2 separate regions of the Homo sapiens genome follow, and region 2 is linked to region 1. A link means that fine-mapping ties the variant in region 1 to the expression of a gene that starts in the linked region. Tissue or cell type: breast. Region 1 holds a variant in brackets; the other region holds the start of a gene. All regions are shown on one strand. Distances are from middle to middle.

Region 1 (4,381 bases):
GCGCTGTTTCTCCTTCTCAGCCGGGACTAGAGGGATCGAACTGTTTGCAGCTGCCAACTCTGCAAATCAAACCTGAAGCTAAGCATGGAGAGGGGGGCTTCCTTTCCAGTGAGTCCTCCCAGGGTGGACAACAAGAGTAATGGATTGGGAGTCAGAAGATGCACACTCGTTCTCAGGACTGTAATGTTGGCTCTGTGGGTGATTTGGGTACTTAACTCCCCAGAGCTGCTTTTCCCAATGGTGAGATGAGCTTATGCCTATTGTGTGCTGTGTTCTGAAGTTCTAAAGTGAGAAAGAGGGCATGGCACCTGCCAAATCATAGGGGCCACTATTAACACCTTCACCAGGCACTCAGGACATGAACACTCCTGTCTTGGGGCCCTGCAGGGTGACTTTACCCCCACAGTGCTGCTATGAAGAGACAAGGATCCCCCGGGGTTCACCAGCTGGGCAGAGGAGATGCCATGACCAGACAGGGCACAACATGGGTTCAAGATGCCCAGGTTGGACTCTGCCCAGAATTGGCTATCCTTGAGCAAAACGGCCAAGAGACTGTGGTGCAGTATGAGGCTCCAGCCCCTGCTACAGACAGAGACACCGAGCCAGCCTCTGCCCTGCCAGCAGCAGGCATGACCTCGGCCACTCCACACCCCCAAGGATGACGTTCAAAACTGTTCACAGCTTCGGCCCATCAGAACAGACACTGACATGGATGCCCGGCAGGACTGCCCATGTGTGCTAGCTGTGTGTCACTGTGTGTGCCCATCTGTGGTCAGGGAGCATCCTGGAGCTGAACATGGGCCCACCCGCTGCCTTCTGCAAACAGGGCCCTGTTCCCCAGCAGCCCAGACCTGGGGCCTGGACTCTGGTACTGAGCAGACTGGGCTGGGGCTGCAGGCCTGCTCCTCTCTATACAAAGGCCCATGTCTGTATCTATGCCGTGGATGTACAACAGGCCACTTGCTCCTACCATATGCTCCGTGAGGCAGAGACCAAAATATCTGCTCCAAATGTCACGAAAACAATGCCAGGGTAAGCCCTGTCCCCTGGTATGAAAAGGGAGAATCCCTGATGTGTTTTTCACACTGTCCCTAAGGGGTGTCCACAGAGCCCCACACCTGCCCCGTGTAGCCACGAGATTTCACACTGACCCTCCAGTGTTGATGCGGCCCTGTGCCCGCCCTGGGGTATTAACGGAATGTCCATGGCGTGGAACCCCCACAACTGTCTCCAGGGTGTCCACACCCTACCCATCTGTCCCCAGTGTGTCCATGAGACTTTCCTCCCACCCCCGGAGTGTCCACAGGAAGCCCCACCTGCCTCTGCCATGTCCACAGGACCCTATGTGACCATGGGACCCCATATCTGTCTCTGGGATGTCTATGCCTAGCCAACCACCCACAGATAGCCATAAAGCCCCCTGCCCCGCCCCCTCCAGTGCCCACAGCTATACTCACTGCTGAGTCCAGTATTGTTCAGGGCGCTGCCCACACCCCAAAGGGCAGCTGCCACACAGAGGATCCAGATGTGTTGCAGGACCCGAGGCACAGGGGCCCAGAAAAAGAGGATGAAGGTGAGGAGCAGGTGCACCCCTGCTCCAGCCA[T/C]GAGGGGCACCGGGCGTGGCAGCCACAGGCCCAGCAGGCCCAGGAGTGAGGCGGCTGAGGTGCCCAGGCTGTAAGCCACGAGGAGGTAAGCCAGCCGCTCCAGCCCCACCAAGCACACGCCATAGCCCTGCGGGGGGACAAGGGGTGAGTGTTGAAGTCCGGAACAGCCCAGACCCCAGTCTCAGCCCTCCCCGCATTGCGGGGGGTGCCTCACCCCCCTGCGATAGGTGCCCTAAGAGCCAGGGGAGGAGAAGGGCTGACTCGTACTCCCCGCATCGCGGGGGGTGCCTCACCCCCCTGCGATGGGGGTCCTAAGAGCCAGGGGGGGAAGAGGGGCTGGCTCTTACTATTCCTGAGGGAATAGTTTAGAGGGACTCATTCCCTGCTATGGTGGGTGAGATGTCTATGAAAAGGACAACCAGTGGGGGAGGGTAGCAAAATTTTGAAGTAGATTTCTGAGACCCCCCAGCACAACCAGGAACAGAAACTCCACACTCTGCTGAGCGGATAGTTTGCACATTGGTCTCCTCCCATCTGCCCAGCGCACTCTCCTGTTTGTCCTGAAGAGGAGGAAACCAAACAAGGCTCCCGACCGTCCCTCAGCACTCACTTGAAGGGGTGGTCCGTCCCTCCACACCTGTGGGTATTTCTAGTTGGGTGGGAAGAGACTGAGAAAAGAAATAAGACACAGAGACAAAGTATGGAGAAACAACAGTGAGCCCAGGGGACCGGCGCTCAGCATACCAAGGACCTGCACTGGCACAGGCCTCTGAGTTCCCTCAGTTTTTATTGATGATTATTTTTATTATTTTAGCAAAAAGGAATGTAGTAGGAGGGCAGGGTGATAATAAGGAGAAGGTCAGCAACGAAGATGTGAGCAATAGAATCTATGTCATAATGAAGTTCACGGGAAGGTACTATGACTGGACGTGTGCGTAAGCCAGATTGATGTTTCTCTCCACCCAAACATCTCAGTGAAGTAAAGAATAACAAGGCAGCATTGCTGCAAACATGTCTCGCCTCCCACCATAGGGCGGTTTTTCCCCCATCTCAGAATTGAGCAAATGTACAATCGGGTTTTATACCGAGACATTCAGTTCCCAGGGGCAGGCAGGAGACAGCGGCCTTCCTCTCTCTCAACTGCAAGAGGATTTCCTCTTTGACTAATCCACCTCAGCACAGACCCTTTACTGGTGTCAGGCTCGTGGACGGTCAGGTCTTTCTCCTCCCACGAGGCCACTTTTCAGACTAACTATGGGGAGAAACCTTGGACAATACGCCGCTTTCAAGGGCAGGGCTCCCTGCGGCTTTCCACAGTGTATTGTGCCCCTGGTTTATTGAGACTAGAGAATGGCAATGACTTTTACCAAGTATACTGCTTGGAAACATCTTGTTAACAAGGCACGTCCTGCACAGCCCTAGATCCCTTAAACCTTGATTTCATACAACACATGTTTTTGTGAGCTTCAGGTTGGGTCGAAGTGGCTGGGGCAAAGCTACACATTAACAACATCTCAGCAAAGAAATTGTTGAAAGTACAGGTCTTTCTCAAAATGGAGTCTCTTATGTCTTTCCTTTCTACATAGACACAGTAAGAGTCTGATCTCTCTTTCTTTTCCCTACACTCACTGAACTGCCCTTCCCCTCTGCTGGGCCATGACCACGGAGAACAGGTCCAGTGTCCTCCTTCTGTGGTGCACCATGGAGGCTCAGACTCCATCCTCAAGGCTGGCAAGAAGACAGGGTGAGATGTGAGCCTCCTGATACAGGTGACGGAAGTGGAGCCCACAGGACTGGAACCTCACACTGTAGGGCTGGAGGCACAGACTGACTATTTACTATTCTGTGGCCTGGGGGGCTCAAGGCACAGAGCTCCTTATTAGACAAAGTCACCCAAGTTCCCCAACCTCTAAGGATTTCCTCATAATAATGCAAGAAGAAGAGAAAAGTGAGTGTCCATAGAAGCTTTGGGGCTCTTCCTCTAATCAGGAGAAAGCTGGTGTGTATTCTTTGCTTCTTTCTTTTCTTTTTAAACATCCAACTGCTTTAATTTTCATCTTTTATTAAGGGAAAATATACCACGCATAAATATTTAAAATTATAAATATATATTAGTTCATATAGAATGGCCGGTATAAACATTTATAATTTCCATGCTTTTTCAGTTTACAGTTTCATGACATTAAGTACGTTCACATTGTTTACCAACCATCACTGCCATCGTCTCCAACACAGTTTTATCTTTCAAAATGTAAATTGCACCCATTCACCAAGCTCTCCACTCCTCTCTCTCGCCCACCCCTGGAGGCCACCTTTCTAGTTTGCAACTCTATGAATTTAACTACTCTAGACACTTGATAGATAAGTGGAATCAAACTGTGTTTTATTGTTTTGGAAACAGAGTCTTTTTCTGTCACCCCGGCTGGAGTGCAGTGGCGTGATGTCGCCTCACTGCAACCTCCACATCGTGGGTTCAAGCGATTCTTGTGTCTCAGTCTCTGGAGTAGCTGGGATTACAGGCGTGCGCCACCACGCCCAGCTAATTTTTGTATTTTTAATAGGGACCATATTGGCCAGGCTGGTCTCGAACTCCTGACCTTAAGTGATCCACCTGGCTCAGCCTCCCAAAGTGCTGGGGTTACAGGTGTGAGCCACTGAGCCTGGGCGTGTTTATCCTTTTGGGATTTATTTATTTCACTGACGATAATGTTTTCAAGGTTCATCCATGTTGCGGCCTGCCTCAGAAGTGCGTCTCTGTTTTTTGTTTTTTTTGTTTG
Region 2 (4,381 bases), 970 kb after region 1:
ATCCTCCCACCTCAGCCTCCTGAGCTGAGTAGCTGGGACTACAGGCACGTGCCATCATGCTTGGCTGATTTTTAAAAAATATTTATTTATTTATTTTTAGTAGAGATGAGGCCTTGCTATGTTGCCCCAGCTGGTCTTGGACTCCAGGGCTCAAGTGATCTATCTACTCACCTCAGCCTCCCAAAATGCTGGGATTACAAGCGTGAGCCACTGCGCCCAGTCTGAAGTTTCTTTGAAAGCAAAAAAGGAAACAAAAAGAGTACATAGGCCCAAATGAAGACAGCTGAAAGTTTAATGTACCTCAAATTCCAGCCCATGACTAAGGGATGGACTTTGAGTCTCTTTTCGAATCCATCTCAAGGATTTAGGTTTAGAGTTTGTGCTCCTTTAAACAGACTAAGAGCCTCTGTGACAAAGTAAATAGAGAAAATAAGTGTAGTCAAGCTCTGGCAGGATTTGGAAGGGGGCCTAACGTGGAAGAAAGGAGAAGGCTGGAATTGACTAAGATGTGCTATGCACTGGGCTGGATTTGTTCTCAGCAGAAAGCAAGAAAGAGCTCTGGGATGGTAGCAGGGCTCCCACTACCACCGGGGGCCAAAGGTTGCAGTATTTCTCAGGTAGCCAAGAGGCACCCATGAGCCCAGCCCCTGCCCACTCCCTGATGTCATCTAGACACAAGGACATGGGGCATGAGAGGACATCATTGTCACTTCTCTGCAGAGTCACAGGAACGTGCCCTCTGCTCCTCCGCCTCTCGGCTGTCCTTCTGCCCACGGCTGGCCCAGACTCTCATGGCGACTCACTGTCTCCCACGCCCCCACTCCCGGCAGGAAACCACTTCAGGGTTTACTGTGGGCTCCGAAATCAGCCTGTGAGTCCTAGTTAGGGTCCCCTGTGCCTGACTCTCCTCTCCCCAGGCTGCAAGAAATAGGGATGACCAGAAGTCAAACTGTGCCCTTGGGAACACCCCACCCCTCACCACTGTCGTGCCAGGAGTCTGTTCCTAAGACCCCTCCCCAAGTCCTGTCTCCTCCTCTTCCTCCCATAAACCACAGCAGACACTCAGCCACCAGGCTGCAGCCCTGCACCTTCTCCAGCAGCCGCTGGCCTTCGCCAGAGTTCTTGAAAGCCCAGTTGTCCTTCCCCAGCCACGTGGAGGCAGACGGATCTCTCCTGGGGGCAGCCTGTAGCTGTCTGTGCAAAGGTTCCCAAGACTAAAGTGTAGAGGACAGGTAAGATGACACTGTCATGATCATCATTCGTCCTGTGCCCTGTGGACATCAACCCACAGATGTGACATCAACCCATCTGATATTGAGCCCAGTGGGTGGGGAGATCCTAACCCAGCTGCTGCTGTTGAGGACTTGGGTGGTGTCTGGCCAGTGGGAGGGGAGGTCAGGCGAGTTTTCAGCAGATGACCCCGTGCTCTTCGGAAGCCCGGAGGTGCCACACTGTACAAGTGTGATGCCTGGGATCCTGTGCTCCCCTGATGCCTGGGAATGGGGTGAAGGAACAGCCTAGGCTTGGGTTCTCTCCTGGGTTGTTTCGGGACTTGGCCCCAGCTCAGGAAGGGTTTGTGGAGGAGCCAAGGAGGGCCTTGTTCCTGTGGGATGTCTTTGCCTTGGGCACAAGGACAGCCTCTTGCTGCTGCTCTGCCCACCGCCCACCCCTTGGCGGCCTCTGGGAGTCTGGGCTGCTCTCCCTCTGGACCTAACCAGTTGCCCAATGGCTGGACCTGCTTAAAGCTCCCTCTTACAACTGGACCAGGCAGCCAGGGGAGGCACTGAGAGGCCGAGCTTCTGAGCTGGTGCCTGTGGATGCTCGACGGTCCCGCAGCTCCCACAATGGGATGGCCAAGCAGACCCTGAGATCCACAGCCCCCCTTTAGTGAAACAGGAGGGAGGTCGCTGGGCACAGGGAGCCGGGAACGCCTGCCCTCCCCGCCATCGACGGCTCCCGAGGCCTGAACCTTCGCTCCAGCCCCAGCACAAGCCGGCCAGGGCGCAGGGCCAAGTGTTGCCCGCCATTCCCCGGGTACCCCATGACCTCCCAGCTGGGGCTGGCTCGGACTGAGGAGTCGTCCCTGCCCGTCACCCTCTGGGGTCTCCAGTGCTGCGGAGCTCAGCTGGCTTTTGCAGCGGTAGGGGCTGGGAGGAGAAGCTGCAGGGAGACCGCAGGCGTGGGACGTTGTGGGGGGTCAGGCTTGCTCTGGGGCTGGGACCCCGGGGGGAGCAGTGGGGTTGACGCCACAGCGATGACTTGGGCCACGGGTCTGGGGGCTCTCCCGCGGGGCGATTGGGCTCTGTCTTTCGGGATTAGGGTCTCTCCCACAGGGTTTGGGGTTCTCTCTGCAGATTTGGGGGAGTCTCTCCCGCGGGATGAGGGGGGGCTCTCCGCCGCACCCGCCTATGATGGCCCAGAGGACCCGAGCTCGGGTCACTCCCGTCGCCCTCGGGGCTCGGCGAGGGTGCAGGAGGCGGGCGCTGAGCCGGTGACGCGACTCCGGGCGGCTCCCGGGTGCGCCGCATATATAGCAGCGGCGGCGGTGGCGGCGGCCACACCGGGCGGCGGACACGTGGAGGGACCCGGCCCGCGCCTTCTGCCCCTGCTGCCGGCCGCGCCATGCGGTGAGCGCCCCAGGCCGCCAGAGCCCACCCGACCCGGCCCGACGCCCGGACCTGCCGCCCAGACCCGCCACCGCACCCGGACCCCGACGCTCCGAACCCGGGCGCAGCCGCAGCTCAAGGTACTACTGGCGCCGGGCCGACCCTGCGCCCCCGGGAGGCCTCCCCTTCGGCTTTCCTCTGCCCAGGGACGGTTCTGCCAGGGCCCTGGCCCGGCCGCCGCCTCTGCTCCTCCCCGCAGCCCCGGCACTCCTTGCCTCGGGGCGCAGCCCACTCCGGGTTCCGACCCGCCCGCCCTGTCCTTCCCTTCCAGATGGCCCGAGGCAGCGCCCTCCTGCTCGCCTCCCTCCTCCTCGCCGCGGCCCTTTCTGCCTCTGCGGGGCTCTGGTCGCCGGTAAGTGCGGGGCGCGTCTCCTCCGAGCGAAGGGGACATCAGAGCCGGCCGGGCGTGGAGGGCTTCCTGGAGGAGGCAGCCTCCGCCCTGCCCGCGGGGATGGGGGTGGAAAGTGGAAAGGCGGGCGCTGTCCTGGCTGCGGGCGTCGCGGGAAGGGTCCGGGGCTCCCTGGGATTCCCCCCGCGCGCTTCTCCGAGTGTATCAACAGCCCCGGGCTATAACCAGGCCGCCGGGAGAGCTCTGCGCTTCGGGTCAGCGCCTCGGGAAAGCGAGAAGCTCGCCCGTTCCGCAGGGCTTAGTTAGAATGGAGGGCTAGGAGCCACTGGCGTGGCCTCAGCGTCACTAAAGCAGGTGCAGTGCGCTGAGAGTGCGCGGGCTCAGGCCCTCAAGTGAAGTATTTCGTAAATAAAGTGGTTCCATTTTCATGTCAAATATAGCCGACTTAGGGGTAAACCTGGAATTTCGCGAGCTATCCAAAAGCACATGCATTGTTCTAAGTCCTCTGCCATGCCGGGAAAGCCTGGGTGCACCCATTCAGCATAGGCTCCAGGCACAGCCCTGGCATCTGATCCCCTTTTCTCCCTTCAAGGCCAAGGAAAAACGAGGCTGGACCCTGAACAGCGCGGGCTACCTGCTGGGCCCACGTAAGTGACTGACAGCATGGCCTCCCCACTCCTGACCCCACCTGCCCCTCGCTTTGAACCCTGGCTCCTGCCCCTCCGCCTGCGGCTGGGCAGACCCTCTGGCCTCCCTCTTGACCTCATTGCCCGTCTCCATTGCTCTGCACACTTGATCTGTGTACGGTTCTTTCCAGAAGCTTCTCCTGCCCCGGCTCTGCCGCCCTGTCCCGGGGTGAGATTCCCACCCTGGGCTTTGCTCAAGTTCTCCTGGGCTTTCCCGCCTTGCAGTCCTTACAGGCCCTGTTCTGGGCCTCTCCCCAGGCCCCCGGGTCTCCCAAAACACTCAACTCCTCGGCTTGCAGAGCACCCTAGGTCAGCGGACCCCAAATCCTGCCTCCCTCTTCCCTTTCTCCAAGCTCCACACGGGAATTGCCAGATCGCCTGAAGGCAGCCCAGACAGGCTCCCCTCAAAACAAGGTTCAGGTGACCCTGCCTGCCCAAGCCTGTGTCCCCTCCCTCTCCCTGTCCTGTTGTTGTCACCTGTGTCAGCGGTGTCCCCTGCTGCCTGAGGTGAGCCCTAGCCCTAGATGGGACACTGCAGGCTGACACCTCCCCGTGTCCGCCCCCGCCCCTGTCCCAGGCCTCTACTTTCTCCACATCCTTGGTCTGTGCAGCAATGCCTTCTGACTTTCCTCCAAAGGAGGGGACAAGAGGAGGCCTTGGTTCCCTCCTGTAACTCACCT

Direction of the effects. Positions count from the first base shown, and alleles are read on the strand shown. Sizes are in standard deviations (SD) of each study's normalised expression.
In carriers of allele T in region 1, the expression in breast of the gene that starts at base 2,558 in region 2 tends to be lower than with C alone (small effect, 0.36 SD a copy in GTEx).

The links. PIP is the estimated chance that this variant, and not a neighbour inherited with it, causes the effect.
Region 2: GAL starts here. The variant in region 1 is the best candidate, but not a certain one, in a credible set for the expression of GAL in breast (GTEx, PIP 0.51).

What each region holds. Positions count from the first base shown.
Region 1 is chr11:67,714,275-67,718,655 of GRCh38, forward strand. It overlaps the pseudogene UNC93B5. Among named protein-coding and RNA genes, the nearest start is that of ALDH3B2, 42 kb to the left of the region's middle. RefSeq lists an enhancer at 3,638-4,169. The variant T/C (reference allele first, on the strand shown) is at 1,605.
Region 2 is chr11:68,681,987-68,686,367 of GRCh38, forward strand. It overlaps GAL (galanin and GMAP prepropeptide), which reads left to right and starts at 2,558. Exons shown (of 6, transcript NM_015973.5): 1 at 2,558-2,746; 2 at 2,938-3,018; 3 at 3,608-3,662. The coding sequence starts at 2,938. All of the region lies in intron 2 of LOC107984343 (a long non-coding RNA gene), which reads right to left. RefSeq lists enhancers at 1,277-1,952, 2,629-3,304.